Linked DNA regions of Homo sapiens: region 2 is linked to region 1. Evidence: fine-mapped expression QTL. Tissue or cell type: whole blood. Region 1 holds a variant in brackets; the other region holds the start of a gene. All regions are shown on one strand. Distances are between the middles of the regions.

Region 1 (8,189 bases):
ATAATTCAAGTTTATTGAGGCCATACTCTATGTCAGGTACATAGTACTCTACAAAATACTTTACATGGATTGTCTCCTTCAATCCTCACAGCAACCAGGACAAGGGAGGGGCTAGTGTTATCCCCATTCTAATCTCATCAGAGGAGAAATTTAAGGCTTATAGAAATGAAACACATTATCCAGGATTGGATCCTGTACATATAAAGGATATTATTGGAACAATTAGTGAAATTTGAATGGGGCCTGTTGATTAGATGGTAATTTTAATCAATGTTAACTTCCAGATTTTGATGATGATTTTGTGGTTAGATAGAATGTCCTTGTACTTAGGATACACACACACATACACAGATACACGGGCACACACACACACACACACACACACACTGTGTATATGTATACATTGAGATATTAAGTGGGCATCATGTCTGAAACATTCTTAAATGACTCAAAAATATTAACAATTTCATAATCTGGGTGACAGGTATGAGAGAGTATGTGTGTGTCTTTACCGCCTTTCTACTTACTCTAACCAAGGTCATGTATAATCAGAAAGTTAAATATAAATTCAAGAGATCTATGGTACAGCAGGATGACTGTAGTTCCTGACGATATATTGTAAATTCTTGAAAAATGCAGAGAGTAAATGTTGAGTTTTCTCATAACAAAATAATGGCATGAGGTAACGCATTCGTTAATTAGCTAGTTAGCTATTTCACAATGTGTATGTGCCTTCAAACATGTTGTACATGATAAATACAATGTTCTCTGTTAAAAAAATTGTTTTAAGAGTTTCACAGCATAATATAATTGTTATTGAGTCTAAGATTGCATAATACTGTTAGATTTTGTTTTTAGTATTTTCATATTTAAATAGTATACTGAGATAATTTATTTTAATATGAACATTTAATAATTTTAAAATATTTTTAAAAATTAAGCCAATTTTTATTCATTCCTCATACTAATTGATTATTCTCACTTTAACAGCATTGCTTATCACTTTCAGGTTTCTTCTAAATCAGATTGTTTGCCTTTTGTAGTAGTTATACTGTGAGATCGCTTAGTAAATGTTAAGTGATTGTGGTGTTTTGTTTTTGTTTTTGTTTTTTGAGTGGGAGAAGGTCTTGCCCTGTCACCCAGGCTGGAGTGCAGGGTTGTGATCACGGCTCACTGCAACCTGCATTTGGGCTCAAGCAATCCTCCCACCTCATCTTCCCGAGTAGCTGGTACTACAGGCATATACCACCATGTGATTGTGGTTTTTTAAAAAAAGCCTCTTTTATTGTAAGCTTATAATTTACAATGGACTGTTAAACACATTTTATAATTTATGCATTTTAATTTAGTTTTAAATGTTATTATCTAAAAATAAGTATCTGCTTTTTGTTTTAACATAGGTTATCTTATGATGAGGCTTTTGCTATGGCTAATGATCCCTTGGAAGGCTTCCATGAAGTAAACCTTGCTTCACCTACTTCTCCGGACCTTCTTGGTGTGTATGAATCAGGAACTCAAGAGCAGACTACCTCACCAAGTGTCATCTACCGGCCACACCCTTCAGCTTTATCCTCTGTACCTATCCAGGCAAATGCATTAGATGTTTCTGAACTTCCTACACAACCCGTGTATTCATCCCCCAGACGTTTAAATTGTGCGGAAATATCTAGTATCAGGTAGGAAATAAGTAAATCACTTATTTGATTTTTTTTAAAATGGACAGTTTGCTTAGTTACTATATTTTAAGTTTTACTATTTTTAGAAAATTTGAATAACTTAAGTGTGCCTAGGTAAAGAAATACATGACCTGATAATGTTCTAGAACAGGGTTGACAAACTTTATATGTGAAGGACCAGATAGTAAATATTTTAGGCTTTGCAAGCCATGCAGTCTCTGTTGCAACTATTCAACTCTGCCTTTAGAGTTTGAAAGCAGCCATAGACAGTATGTAAATGAATGAGAGTGGTTGTGTTCCAATAAAACTTCATATATGGATGCAGAATTTTGAATTTCATTTAATTTTCATGTGTCACAAAATATTCTTTTAAAGATTTCTTTTCAACTATTTGAAATTGTAAAAACTATACTTGGCTCATTGATACCTTATAAAAACGGGTGGAAGGCTTGGTTTAGCCTGTAGGCTATAGTTTGTTAACCCCTGCTCTTGAGTAGCACTGTCCTGTAGAACTTTCTGTGTTGATGAAAATGTTCTATTTCTGTGCTATCTAATATGAATGATAGGTATTAACCACATGTAGCTATTGAGCACTTGAAATGTGGCTGATATGACTGAGGACATACTATTTATTTAAATATAGAAGCTACCAAATTGGGTAGTACAGTTCTAGAGCTGTGTGTTTAAGCCAGTTCTATTGGAGCATATGCTGATATTTTCTGAAAAATGTCTCTCTCCTTTACAGCTTTCATGTTACAGACCCAGCCCCTTGCTCTACCTCTGGAGTCACAGCTGGATTAACTAAATTAACTACAAGAAAGGACAACTATAATGCAGAGAGAGAGTTTTTACAGGGTGCTACTATAACAGAGGCTTGCGATGGCAGTGATGATATTTTTGGGTTGAGTACTGATAGTCTGTCTCGTTTACGAAGCCCATCTGTTTTGGAAGTTAGAGAAAAGGGCTATGAACGATTAAAAGAAGAACTCGCAAAAGCTCAGAGGGTAAGAAAGAAGATATTTTATTCTTCCATATATTATATTAGAAATTAGTATTTCTCCATGGGGTGGGGCAACCTGCAGAAATGAAATCATGATGGTTGTACATTTATCCGTCACATATGCCCAGCCTCAGCTCCTGTTAGGCAGCATTTAGGAATCCGTGAAACTGGTTGGGTAGTAAAGAAGTTCCTCTAAGACTACTAACTGGAAAAATGTGGCTCTGTTAACTCTTCTGTGCCCCACTGCATTGCCTGCTCCCTGTCTCGTATTATCTGTAATGCAGATTGAGTGGGCTATATTCCACATGCAGGGTTTTTCCTTCTTACTACATGGCTGACTAAATGGTTATTTACTTGAAGTCACTCAGTCTAAGTCATTTTGTTTTGAGTTTAAGCTGAGTTTGAATATTTTCTGTATCTTACCTTGGAGAATTTTCTTGGTAAATTGTTGTGTTTCCCATTTGGTCATTTTAAAAGTTTCTGCTATTTATTTCCAAACTTGTGGCCATATCTTATTCTTTTTCTGAGTCTGCAGTTAAATTTCAGAGGAAAATTTATAGAATGAAATGCATACATCAGAAAACAGGAAAAGTCTCAAATGGACAATCTAAGCTCCCACTTTAAGAATCTGTAAAAAGAAGAGCAAAATAAAACCAGAGCAAGTAGAAGGAAGGAAATAATAAAGAGCAAAAATCAATGAAATTGATAACAGAAAAAATAGAGAAAATGAGTGAGACAAAATGTTGGTTCTTTAAGAAGATTAATAAAATTGCAAACCTCTAGCAAGACTGACAAAAAGAAGACAGATTTATCAGTAGCAGGAGTGAAATGCAGGATGTCACTGGAGACTCATATCAAAAGTATAATGGAATGATATGAAAAACTGCATATATAAACCTGACAACCTAGGTGAAATACCAATTCACATGTAGAAAATTGAGAAGGTAGGGCAAACATTTATAGGTGTAATATCCAACCTACCATGACATTTCACAAATGTATTCCCACTCTTTCCCTAGCATACTTGTCTCTCATGAGCGTAGTATATTCATTTTTTTAATCCCCAGTTCCTTCCCAAAGGAAAAGGATGTGGTGAGATGTGGTTGCATTTTGTTTCTGTCATCTGGCTCAGACTTTGTTGTCTTAATAGATAGTATTTTATTAAAATCACACATTATATAGAGGTAAAATTTTGAGTATATGTATCCATCTTTGAGAACACATGGTTATTGATCAGAACAGATTGCTAATTTCTTAGCTCACTTGAGAATTTCCTTTGAAATCTCTAATATGCTGTATTTAGAGATACTGTTTGGATAATTGAAATGGTGATGTGTAAACACATATGTGGTGACTTTTATGAAGAGTATAAGTTAGTATTAATATTTACTTAGATCTCAAGGCTTGAAAAGGACTCTTGAATATAAAAATACTTCCTGAATTGTGACAACTTGTGAATCAAACTATGTCAACAGCCATTTTCTTTAGTCTTATCTTAAGAGAGGCCATTTTCTATACTTTTTACTTACTTGGTTAACTGTGTCTTCCTATTTAATACGAGTTTCTTATAGATAGTGTACAGTTAGGTCTTGTTCTTTTGATCCTTTGTAATTATCTCTGTCTTTTAATTGGTGTTTAGACCATTTACATTTAATGGATAATGGTATAGTTTGGTTTAAATTTACCATCTTACTGTTTGTTTTCTGTTTGTCTCATTTGTTCCTTTTTCCCTTTTGTATCCTTTCTTTTGAATTAATTCTGTATTTTTAAAACAATTTCATCTTCCTGTGGCTTTTATCTTTGTTGCTTTAGCGTTTATAGTAGACATATTTAACTTATCACTCTCTACCTTCCGGTGATATATTACTTTACATCTGGTGTACAAACCTTACAAAAGTATACTTTTATTTTTCCCCTCCTAGTTTTTGTGCAATAATTGTTGTATGTTTCACTTCTTTGTGTGTTTAAACCCCACAAAACACTATTGTTTTGCATTAAACAGTATTATCTTTTAAAGAGACTTAAATAATAACAAAGAATCTTTACATAGATAAACATCAGAAATGTTAGCTACATGGGCATCTGTGTGTTCATTCCTTTTTTTTTTTTTTTTTTTTTTTTTACAAGTTTTACTTTTATTTTTGAATGATAGTTTAACGGGGCATACAATTCTAGGTTGATGGTTGTTTTTTTTTTTCTCAACAAACACTTTCATAATTTTACGTCTTTGTCTTCCGGCATCTATCATTGTTGATGAGAAGCCAGCTGTCAATGTAGTTGTCATTCCTTTGTAGATAATTGGTTTTCTTCCTCCTTCTGGTCACTTCTAAG[AT/A]TTTTTTTTTTTAATTGATCATTCTTGGGTGTTTCTCGCAGAGGGGGATTTGGCAGGGTCATAGGACAATAGTGGAGGGAAGGTCAGCAGATAAACAAGTGAACAAAGGTCTCTGGTTTTCCTAGGCAGAGGACCCTGCGGCCTTCCGCAGTGTTTGTGTCCCTGGGTACTTGAGATTAGGGAGTGGTGATGACTCTTAACGAGCGTGCTGCCTTCAAGCATCTGTTTAACAAAGCACATCTTGCACCGCCCTTAATCCATTTAACCCTGAGTGGACACAGCACATGTTTCAGAGAGCACAGGGTTGGGGGTAAGGTCATAGATCAACAGCATCCCAAGGCAGAAGAATTTTTCTTAGTACAGAACAAAATGAAGTCTCCTATGTCTACTTCTTTCTACACAGACACAGCAACAATCTGATTTCTCTATCTTTTCCCCACCTTTCCCCCTTTTCTATTCCACAAAACCGCCATCGTCATCATGGCCCGTTCTCAATGAGCTGTTGGGTACACCTCCCAGACGGGGTGGTGGCCGGGCAGAGGAGCTCCTCACTTCCCAGAAGGGGCGGCCGGGCAGAGGCGCCTCCGACCTCCCGGACGGGGCGGCGGCCGGGCGGAGGCGCCCCCCACCTCCCTCCTGGACGGGGCGGCTGGCTGGGCGGGGGCTGAACCCCCACCTCCCGGACGGGGCGGCTGGCCGGGCAGGGGCTGACCCCCCACCTCCCTCCCGGACGGGGCGGCTGCCGGGCGGGGGCTGACCCCCCACCTCCCTCCCGGATGGGGCGGCTGGCCGGGCGGGGGCTGACCTCCCACCTCCCTCCCGGACGGGGCGGCTGCCGGGCGGAGGGGCTCCTCACTTCTCAGACGGGGCTGCCGGGCAGAGACGCTCCTCACCTCCCAGACGGGGTCGCGGCTGGACAGAGGCGCTCCCCACATCTCAGACGATGGGTGGCCGGGCAGAGACGCTCCTCACTTCCCAGACGGGGTGGCGGCCGGGCAGAGGCTGCAATCTCGTCACTTTGGGAGGCCAAGGCAGGCGGCTGGGAGGTGGAGGTTGTAGCTAGCCGAGATCATGCCACTGCACTCCAGCCTGGGCAACATTGAGCCCTGAGTGAATGAGACTCCGTCTGCAATCCCGGCACCTCGGGAGGCCGAGGCTGGCGGATCACTCACGGTTAGGAGCTGGAGACCAGCCCGGCCAACACAGCGAAACCCCGTCTCCACCAAAAAAATACGAAAACCAGTCAGGCGTGGCGGCGTGCGCCTGCAATAGCAGGCACTCGGCAGGCTGAGGCAGGAGAATCAGGCAGGGAGGTTGCAGTGAGCCAAGATGGCAGCAGTACAGTCCAGCTTTGGCTCGGCATCAGAGGGAGACCGTGGAAAGAGAGGGCGAGGGAGACCGTGGGGAGAGGGAGAGGGAGACTGTGGGGAGAGGGAGAGGGAGAGGGAGAGCCTCCAACTCTCCTCTTGCTCAGGATCCGTTTGGGGACTTGCTCTGTGTGTTCATTCCTTTGGTATTCATTTCTTCATGTGGATCCAGATTTCCAACTCGTATCATTTTTCCTTTGGCTTGAAGGACATCCTTTTACATTTTTGTTGTGCATGTTTGATGGTGATAAATTCTTTTAGCTTTTGTATGTCTGTGTTCATTTTTGGTTTTTGAAAGATATTTTCACTGAGTAAAGAATTTAAGATTGATAATTTTTTTTTTTTTGTTACTGTAAAGATGTTGCTTCAGTGTTTTCAAGCATGTACATTGTTTCTCACAAGAAGTCTGCTGTTACCCTTACCTTTGTTCCTCTGCGTATTAGGTCTTTTCTCTCTGGCTGCTTATGAGAGTCCTCTCTCACTGGCATAAGCAATGTGATTGTGATTTGCTTTGGTGTAGTTTCTTCAGCTTTCTTATGTTTGGGATTTATTGAGCTTCTTGAAGCTGTAGGTTGTTAGTTTTCATAAAATTTGGGAAATTTTGGCCTTTATATCTTCAAAAAGTTTTCCATTCTTCCTCTCTCTCTCCTTTCCTCTGGATTCCTATTACATGTACATTAGACTGCTTAAACTTATCTCACAGCTTGCTGGTGTTACAGTCTTTCATTTAAAAATCTTTTTTTCCTCACTGTGTTTCATTGTGGGTAGTTTCTATTGCTATGTCTTCAAAGTCACTACTCTTTTCTTCTGAAATATCTAATCTGTTAATCCCATACAGTATGTTTTTAAACTAGACATTGTAGTTTTCATCTCTGAAAGTTTGATTTGGATCTTTTTTATACTTTGCTTGCTCTGCTTAATATGTTGGGATGCAGTTTAATAAATGTTTTGTTTCTAATTATTTCATCTCTTCAGATAATAAGCTGGGGCAGATCTGGGGTGCACATTTTGTTTTTCATTTCTAGGGGATCACTGTCTTTTATTGCCTAATATCAAATGCTTCAAATTGTTGATCCATATATTTTTTCAGAGTTTTAGTTGTGTCAGATGGGTGGTAAATCTAATCCCTGTTCCTCTATCTTAATTGGAAGTGAAAGTTCTACTTACTCATTTATATTACTTCATTGTCTACCCCATTCAAGTAATCCACATAGAAAAACCTGCATTTATACACACATGCTTCAGTACTTCTGAGATTCATGAGGATAAGGATTGCATATGTTTGTGCTCATGATTATATCTTGAGCATATAATGGGTTTTCAATACATTTTGTTGATTAAATGAATATATACATGTATATGCGGTTATACAAGTGTTTGTATACACACATGCCTGATATATTAGGGTGATGCTTATAAGTAACCCCCAAATTTTCGTGACTTTACCTAATAGAAGTTCATTTTTATTCATTTAACACTCTGAAGCAGATGTTCATAGTTGGTAGGCAGTTCTCTGTGAAATAATTCAGAGATCTGTTTCTCTTCTGTTTGGGGCCTTTGTAATTTCTTAGGGTTTTATTGTTATTTGTATCTAACCAATGAGACAAAAGGGAAAGACAGCTTAGAGAAGGTACAGCTTCTTCTAAAAAACCTTGGCTTAGATATGATACACATCACTTTTGCTCACATTCTATTGGTGTGAACCTTTCATGCCAATACCTAGATGTATGGTGGGCTGGGTAATGTAATCCCTGGATGGACAACCACTTCCCAGCAACAAATCCATACTGTGTGTGTAGGGGGACCAATCATGT
Region 2 (8,189 bases), 19 kb before region 1:
TTTCTCACAGAACCTATGGGAAGGGATGAAGGAAGCCTCAGTAATAGAGCGATAGCTGGAATTAAAAAGTAAGGGGAGGCCAGGAAGCCCTCTCACTGTGTCTCATCTCTCCTTCTCTTCCTTCTTACTGAAAATTATTTACACAGTTGTCACAGAGAAGCTACAAATAAATATTTGTTTGATGGATGGCAATTTGTGTGTGTGATAAACTGGATCTAAAGTCAATTCTCAAAACGTTTTGTTATATATATGTAGCTTGTTAAAGTGATTCTTTTGAAGGGGGGAATCATACTTTTTAGAGTCTAAGCTCTCTCTTAAACCCTTTCTCTCAGCTTTCCAATTTTTCCCAGTCACTTATTCCAACATCAGAAAGGGGGCCTGAAATACAGGATTGTCCATAATTAATATCATGACAGACACTTTTGAGATTGCTCTGCTTTTTTACAGGAGTTGCAAAAGTCAGTTTTTATGAGAACACAAGCACTGGCACTCACTGACTATTTTGGCAGACAAGGAAATGATAGATTAATTACTTTTGGTACATTTTTCCCATAACTGTCTTTTTTTTCCATTTCATTTTTGCATTGTTACTATTTACCAGTCTGAGTTCTCACTTACACCTAGTTTTTGCCCTTCAGGGTTTCTTATATTCTTGCCAACTCTTTGATATGCTTGATAAGATGTTTTATATATATTTATATATATTGCTTTGGGTTTGAGAATCAGCCAGAGCCTCTAGTCTGCCATACTACTGGACACAAAAGTTCAATATGTTTTCACTTCATTCGTTTATAAGATATTAACCTGCATTCCAAACACCAGGGCCCTAACTCTGGTGGCCTAAGCTCCCCATCCACAAAAATGAAGAATAACTACCTTTCCACCTGCATCAAATTGTTTTTTGTACAAGACTCATGTAATCATTAACATGAAGTCAGTTTGCAACTGGAAAATACCATGAAAATACATTTTCTTAACTCTGAAAACAAAACAGAGGCAAACAAGTAATAAAAGTTATAACTAAGGGTAACAACCTTAGAATGGTTTGTTCAATTTACAATGTCTATATATTTGCACTCATCTGCTTTTTTTCTGGCCCAAGGTATAAATGAGAAAGTCTTAAGATAAAAAAAAAGCAATATTATTTTATACGTTATATTTGACACTAATTGTATAATTTACATTTTTAAAAAATAAAGAGAAAAAAATAAAGAGAAAAAGGCAACCTTGAGCACACTATAAAATCTTTCACTCTTTTTTTTTTTTTTTTGAGATGGAGTCTCACTCTTGTCACCCAGGCTGGAGTGCAATGGCGCGATCGGCTCACTGCAACCTCTGCCTCCCGAGTTCAAGTGATTCAAGGTTCAAGTGATTCTCCTGCCTCAGCCTCCCGAGTAGCTGGGATTACAGGTGCCAGCCACCATGCCCGACTAATTTTTTATGTTTTTGGTAGAAATGGGGTTTCACCATGTTGGCCAGACTAGTCTTGAACTCCTGACCTCAGGTGATCTGCCCACCTCAGCCTCCCAAAGTGCTGTGATTACAGGTGTGAGCCACCGCGTGCGGCCTTTTGTTTTGTTCTTTTGAGACAGGGTGTCACTCTGTCGCCCAGGCTGGAGTGCAGTGGCGTGATTTCGGCTCACTGCAGCCTCCGCCTCCCGGGTTCAAGTGATTCTCCCACCTCAGCCTTCCAAGTAGCTGGGACTACAGGTGTGTGCCACCATGCACAGCTGATTTTTTTTTTTTTTTTTGGTAGAGATGGGGATTCACCACGTTGGCCAGGCTGGTCTCGAACTCCTTACCTCAAGGATCTGCCCACCTTGGCTTCCCAAAGTGCTGGGATTACAGGCATGAGCCACCGTGCCCATCCAAATCTTTCACATTTTTAAATTTTGTGAAATAGCTGTCCTTTTTATATATGGGTAAGCTATCAAACTTAAGATGCTCACAGCCCTTTACATACTTTGTAGGCTGAGATTCTGAGTGTCTAATATTCTGTAATGTATCTTGGTCTCTGTGCTGCAAGAACACTGAAGTATTATTATAGGTAACAATCTATATCACTCTTCTCAAACAGCGCTAACAGGTTAAGTATTCAAGAGGAACATCTTTCAGTATATTTCAAAAAGCCTCATGGATGGTAGGTGATTTGTAAATGGACCAACGCAGGACTCAGGCATATATGGTTACTGCTTACTATTTCCTATAGATCATGATGTCTTAGGTCTTATGTAGAATATATCATAGGACTTGTCCTCTAAACATTCACATACCAAGACTGCACTCTGCATGCATGCCATTCACTCATTCTGCATTTACTGAGTCAGTCCTACTGCATGTCAGACCTTGTGCCTGTTCTCAAGAAGCTCGCAGTCCAGGAAAATGGAGAAATACAGATACAATTATAACTCTATGTGATAAGTGTTACAAAGAGATACGGTGTTATGGAAGCCCTGGTAGGGGCACTTAGCCCATACTGGAGTGGCTGGGATAGGGCTGAGTGGCCAACAATAGGGAAGGGTTCACAGTGGAATTGATGTCTAGGCTAAATAATGAATAACAAATAATTAGCAAGGCAAGGAAAAGGTAGGAGATCAAGACATAAAAATAAACAGCATATGGAAATACAGGGTTGTATGTGAGTACGGCAAGACTGGGGAGCCTAAGTGGTTTGCTGTATATTTAATTTATTCATTTCACGTAGCTACTATTGACATACTTGTCTCCCTATATATGTTTGAGTCCGTGGATGGTGGGGACTTTGTAATGGTTTCTCTGTCCCTATGTCTAACAGGAGGCACACAGATGGAGTGCAATAAAATGTCTGATGAATAAATGACCAGCTATGAGGTGTAAGGGAGAATAGGAATCCATTAATGAGAAAGGTCATTTCTAGTGGCAATGAATATCAGATAAGATAGATTTAAGAATTATTTAGAAATTAGGATGAATAAGACTTGGTGATATATTGGCGATGGGGTATAAAATAAGAAACACTGGCTTTCTAGGTTTCTGGATTACAGATGCATGATAATAGTTATAATGGTATAATAACAATAGCTAATATTTATTAGGCACTCTGTGTCATGAAGTACGCAAAGTGTTTACATGAATTAAGCCATTTAAACTCTTAATGACTCAGTGAGGCAGGTTCTGTATACTCATTCACTGATGAGAAAATTGGGGCTAGAGAGATTCATTTGCCTAAGGTCACTCAGCTAGCAGGTGGCAGGCTCAAGCCCAGTAATTCTGACTCCAACAACCATACATATAGTCTACTTTTCTTTACTGCCTCTAATAGATGAGATTAATACCCAGAATGATGGTCCTATTCAATAAGTGTATCACACAAATGCACGTTTCTCTTTTGCTAAACATAGAGACACATACTATGACTACCTCTATTATTATTATTTTTTTTTGATTTTTGGGATCTTGGCTCTTTCTGTATTTTTCCTACCTGGAAGACCTAAAGTGGGGTAGAAGTTTGATAAAACAGTTGGCACAAAAGATGAGAGAAGACAGGTACAGACATGACATTCTCGAACGCTCTGGCAGTTGCTGGAATGATGGGATCTGGGTTCTACAGGATTCCTCCCCTCCCATCTCCCGCCACACACACACACGTCGTAAGGTGTATATGGCCGCGGAGTCTCAGGTTGGTTCTAGGAGTCCTCAACCCACGGCAAAGGTGCCTCTTCTCCCTCCTGGAGAGCCCAACATGCTTGAAGTTAACCTGAGGCCGCCTCTCGGGCCCGGCGAAACAGAGCGCGGGCCCGACGAAACAGAGCGCGGGCCCGACGAAACAGAGCGCAGCTCCGGCTCGCGCTGGTTCCCAGGGAAACCGCCCGCGGAGGAACCTCGGGCCAGGGCCGTGACACCTGCGACGAGCCCCGCCTGGCGCCAGGGGGCGCGGAAGCGCGTCCGCCCCCAGGCCCCATGCCGGGCTCGCCCCGCCCCTGCCGGCCACACCCCCCTACCCCGCCCTCCCTCCGTGAGGACCGGCCGCTCCCGGCTCCCGGCCCCCGGCCCCGCTTCCGGCGCAGGCGCAGTCCCGCGTTCCCTCGGCGGCTGCCGGCGTAGTGAGCCCGCCGCCGTGGAGTGTAGCGGAAAGGGCTCGCCGTCCTCCTCCGTTTCTCGCTGCTTCGGGACGCGCTCTCTGCGGCTCTGTGAGCGCCCCTGAGCGCCGGCAGCGGCCGCGGTGGGTTCTTCAGGTGAGTGCGGCCGCGGGAGGGAGAGGCCCGGAGCGTAGAGCACCGCCCCCCTCGGCGCCCGCGCGCCCGCCTCTGGCGAGTCGGCCAGGAGGGGCGGCCGCGGCAGGTGCAGGTGCTGGCGCCGTGCAGGGCGCGGCACGCGGGGGTTCGGGGGGATGCCCAGGCCCGGTGAGCTCGCTCTCCGCCTGGGCACTTGGGCTCCGGGCCCTTGGGGGCGGCGTGTGGGGGGGACTTTGGCGACCCGGGTCAGCCGGCCGCCCCCTGGGCTGCTGGTGGGCGTCGGGCGGCGGCTCCTCCCCCGGGCACGGGCGCGTTACACATTAACTGCGCGGTCCCGCGCGCCCGGGGCAGGGAGCCCGAGTCCAGCGGGTTACCTGGCGGCGGGCGGGCGCGGCCGGGAGCGGAGGGCCGCGGTCGCGAAGAGGATGAAGAGAGAGTTCCCGAACAAGTCGGAAGCAGCTCACAACACCGGACGCCGCGCGGCAGGGCTGTGGACCTGGGGTGGTTTCGTGTCCCAGTCTTAGGAAACTACGCGCGAGGCACCGTGCTGAGGCGTAGAGGTCACCCTCGGGAGGTTTCGGTGAAACCTGGTGGGAAATTCCGGGCAGGCGCCCGGAGTCGCGCCCAAGTAGGCAGCTCCGTGCCGCCAGACTTGTGTTCGGGGGAGTTGAGACGAACTGCACGGGTGGGATTGCATGGCTCTGCCCTCCCAGCGTTGACAACTCGCCCCGACCGCCCAGGAAGCGCGAGCTTACTGGCTCCAGAAGTGATGATGCTGGGTGGAAGTCGCAGCATGTGAAGAGTTGCCGGTTGTTATGGGATTAAAAAAGATGAAAGGGTAAGGTCTTGAAAGACACGAGCGCTGAGTTAGTTAGTACTGATTACTGAGAGGCAATTTAGTTTCATGGAAATGTTGCCTGTTCGGAGGCTACCTGTTATACACTCTCCTGTTTCACCCCAACTCCTTCCGTTCAGTGTCGGGTTAAAAGCCTTGTAATCTCTTGCAGTGGAATGATTGCATAATTGGAGGAGGGGCCCATAAGAGGATTACAACAAAACTGTTCCATTGTAAATCAGTTGAAAGACCCAGTTCTTGTTCATTATCCTTTTTCTCATTTTGTTGTTCATGAAGGTTTTTTTTTCTTCCAGTGCTGAATGACAAATCAAGGAGAAAAGAGGCAGAATAGGGTTGTAGACCAATCGTAGTAAATATTTGATACTGTTAAATATTTCACCAGTTTTATGGGGCCTTGTTCTGTTATCATTTGTTATTTATTTACTAGTACTGTGCATTTTGATAGGACTTTTCATGTTTGGACAGACAGTGTATTCCAGATGCGGCTTATGTGATCTAATCCTAAAGCCCTTGTGGAATTTATAGAAATAAACAGTTATACAATTAAGTAGTCCATTTTTTAACTATTAAATGAAAAGCCATTGCATTTTTTTCCATTACAGTAATGTTACATATTAATGTATACCTTTGTGAACCAAAGTGTTTGATACAACTCTTCCTTCTGTGTTTGGTAAACAACTCATCTGTGGTACTGAATACTTGTAATCTTTCACCAGGATGGCCATTTAATGTTTAGCTGCTTTGTGGGATTTCTGAATAGATCCTATTGTACTTTTTGAATTAGTGCAGTTATCCATATGTTTCCTTTAATATTCTTTACCTTTGATTTTGTCTAAACTCTCATCCTCCCCCAACACACACATCCTCTACAAATAATTTTTAAAATGGAAAGGTTCTTAGAAATGTTTCACCCCCTCATTTTTTAAATATGGCACGAAAAAATACTTTGTAGATTACAGTAGTTTTATATGCATTATAGTAGTTACTATACTTTTTTCCTCCTCAACAGGAGTCAGTGAACAAATTAGTGAGCTGGCTGAATGAAAAATTATTTAATGTTCAGCTCCATCACTTACTGTGCATAAAACCTTGAGTAAAACATTTAACCTGTTTGAGCTTATTTTCTCCATTTGTCAGTGGAAATACTATTAGGTTGAAATTGCTAATATTCTGCTGTTTTTTATGTTTCAACCTAATATGAACTTCATAATGGTAAGATGAGGATTTAATAACATACTCCATTAGAGATGTGGGGAAGGGGAGAAGGAACCAGTGTGAGCTTGATTGTGTGCAAGGCACTGTGTGTGCTTGTTTTCGATACCTTGACTCCTCAGTCCTCTGGACATTCCCGGGATATAGGTGGTTTATCAAATTTTACAAGTCAGGAAATGGAGGCTTAGAAAGTTGCGATAATTTGTCTATGGTTACTTAGTTGTAGGTGGTCGTACAGCTGGCCAGTGACAGAGCCGGTATTAAAAACTGTATCCGACTGCCCAAAATGGAACGTAGTGCTTTTGTTTCTTACATTCCTGGTCTGCACCTTCTATTAAAGAGCTTTGTAACTATAAGGAGGCACACAGATGACAAGTGTTACCATTTGTATTTCTGGTTTAAAAATATCCAAGTTTTCTGAAGACGGTGATACCAGCATTGCTACTACAGTTACTTTTAAGTCTAGTGCTTATCAAGCGAAGTCCTGGTGTAAGCTTTATACTCATTTACTCTCAGAGTGAGCGAGGAGATAATACTTTATCCCTATTTTGTAGTTGAGAAAATTGAGACCCTGAGACCTTATGTAGTTTGCTCAACGTCACATAGTTAATTAAGTGACAGGTCTAGATTAGATGTCAGACAGTTTGTCTTCCATGTCTGTGCTCTTAACCACTACACTCTGTCATTTCTTCATGTATAAGTGGTAATGCTAAAGAATTGTTTGCTCATAATCACTACATTATCACTTCTTTATGTGTAGCTTATAATGCTGAAGAACTTTGTAATTTAGCTTTTATGAGATACGTAATGTTAATGTAATATGTAATTCTCATTGTGTCACCAGAGATTTTTTTAAATCAAATACTCATTGAGCATCTACTCTGCAAGTCACAGTAGGGGTTAAAGGAAACTGTTCTTAAGGAATATGGAAGGTAGGGCCTTATAATCATTCCCATATCTTTTATAAGTTCTTCAAAATGTAGAACGCACTTTACATATTTTAATGAATGTCAACTAAGACAAAGTGCTAGGATAGTTGAGTAGTGGAGAGGAAGGACAGATGGATAGTGGGTAGAGATATTTGTGCATTGAGGTAATGAGGGAAAGCTTTGAAGATATTCCAAGGGAGTACGCTTTTTCACACTAAACTTTTTTCCGATATAATTCTGATTAAGATGCAGTTCATCAAAGGATAGTAAATTGGTTACTACGCATTTGATATCCTAAAAACAAAATATCTGAGCTTTTGTAAACTGCTTTCTAGCTTGTTTCTCCTTTTTTATGCTACTATCCTTAGTTGTACCAGATGGTACTCTTTTTAAAAATTTTATGCTTTTATAATACTGAGTACCTCTTTTTTGGTATTTATGAACTTTGATATTTGTGTTGTATTTGTAATTGTTTCTAGGGCCCTAGAAACATGTTTATTGGCAAGGTGGTCTCTTCCTCTAGTCTACAAGTGCTTCGAGAGTAGGGCTTACCTCATTTTATAGCTTTAACATCGGGCCAGGTAAGTACTGTGCTGTGTTTGGTGATGGATGATCAGTTGAAGAATGTTAGGATGTTTTGAAGCTGCTCTAGCAGTAGAAATTGAAATGAACATTGAGAAATGAAGGGACAAAGGAAGGAAGAGGAAGATATTTATACAACTGGGAGCATTAACTTGCTATCTCTATTTTCCCTTCTGCTTTCCTTTTCAACTTACCACTAAATGAGGTAGTTTTATAAGCTTACATCGTACATAGTCATGGTTAGAGAAAAGTGGAAAAAGTAATCTGATTTATCTTAGAATATAGGGCAACACGAAATTAGATAACTATAGCCGTAAACTGATATTACTTAGAGGAAAAAGAATGAAAATTATTCAAATAGTTCAAGTTCATGAAAGATTTGATGCTTGTCGTTAA

What was found. PIP is the estimated chance that this variant, and not a neighbour inherited with it, causes the effect.
Region 2: it holds the start of RAB3IP, and the variant in region 1 is fine-mapped to the expression of RAB3IP in whole blood (INTERVAL, PIP above 0.99). The same link has a PIP of 0.9 or more in neutrophils.

What each region holds. Positions count from the first base shown.
Region 1 is chr12:69,753,984-69,762,172 of GRCh38, forward strand. RAB3IP (RAB3A interacting protein) reads left to right here. Exons shown (of 11, transcript NM_022456.5): 2 at 1,401-1,676; 3 at 2,422-2,680. The coding sequence starts at 1,426. Among named protein-coding and RNA genes, the nearest start is that of RAB3IP, 19 kb to the left of the region's middle. RefSeq lists an enhancer at 5,540-6,131. The variant AT/A (reference allele first, on the strand shown) is at 5,008.
Region 2 is chr12:69,734,818-69,743,006 of GRCh38, forward strand. It overlaps RAB3IP (RAB3A interacting protein), which reads left to right and starts at 4,043. Exons shown (of 11, transcript NM_022456.5): 1 at 4,043-4,214. It overlaps LOC101928002 (a long non-coding RNA gene), which reads right to left and starts at 3,733. Exons shown (of 4, transcript NR_110072.2): 1 at 3,461-3,733. RefSeq lists a silencer at 3,791-4,620.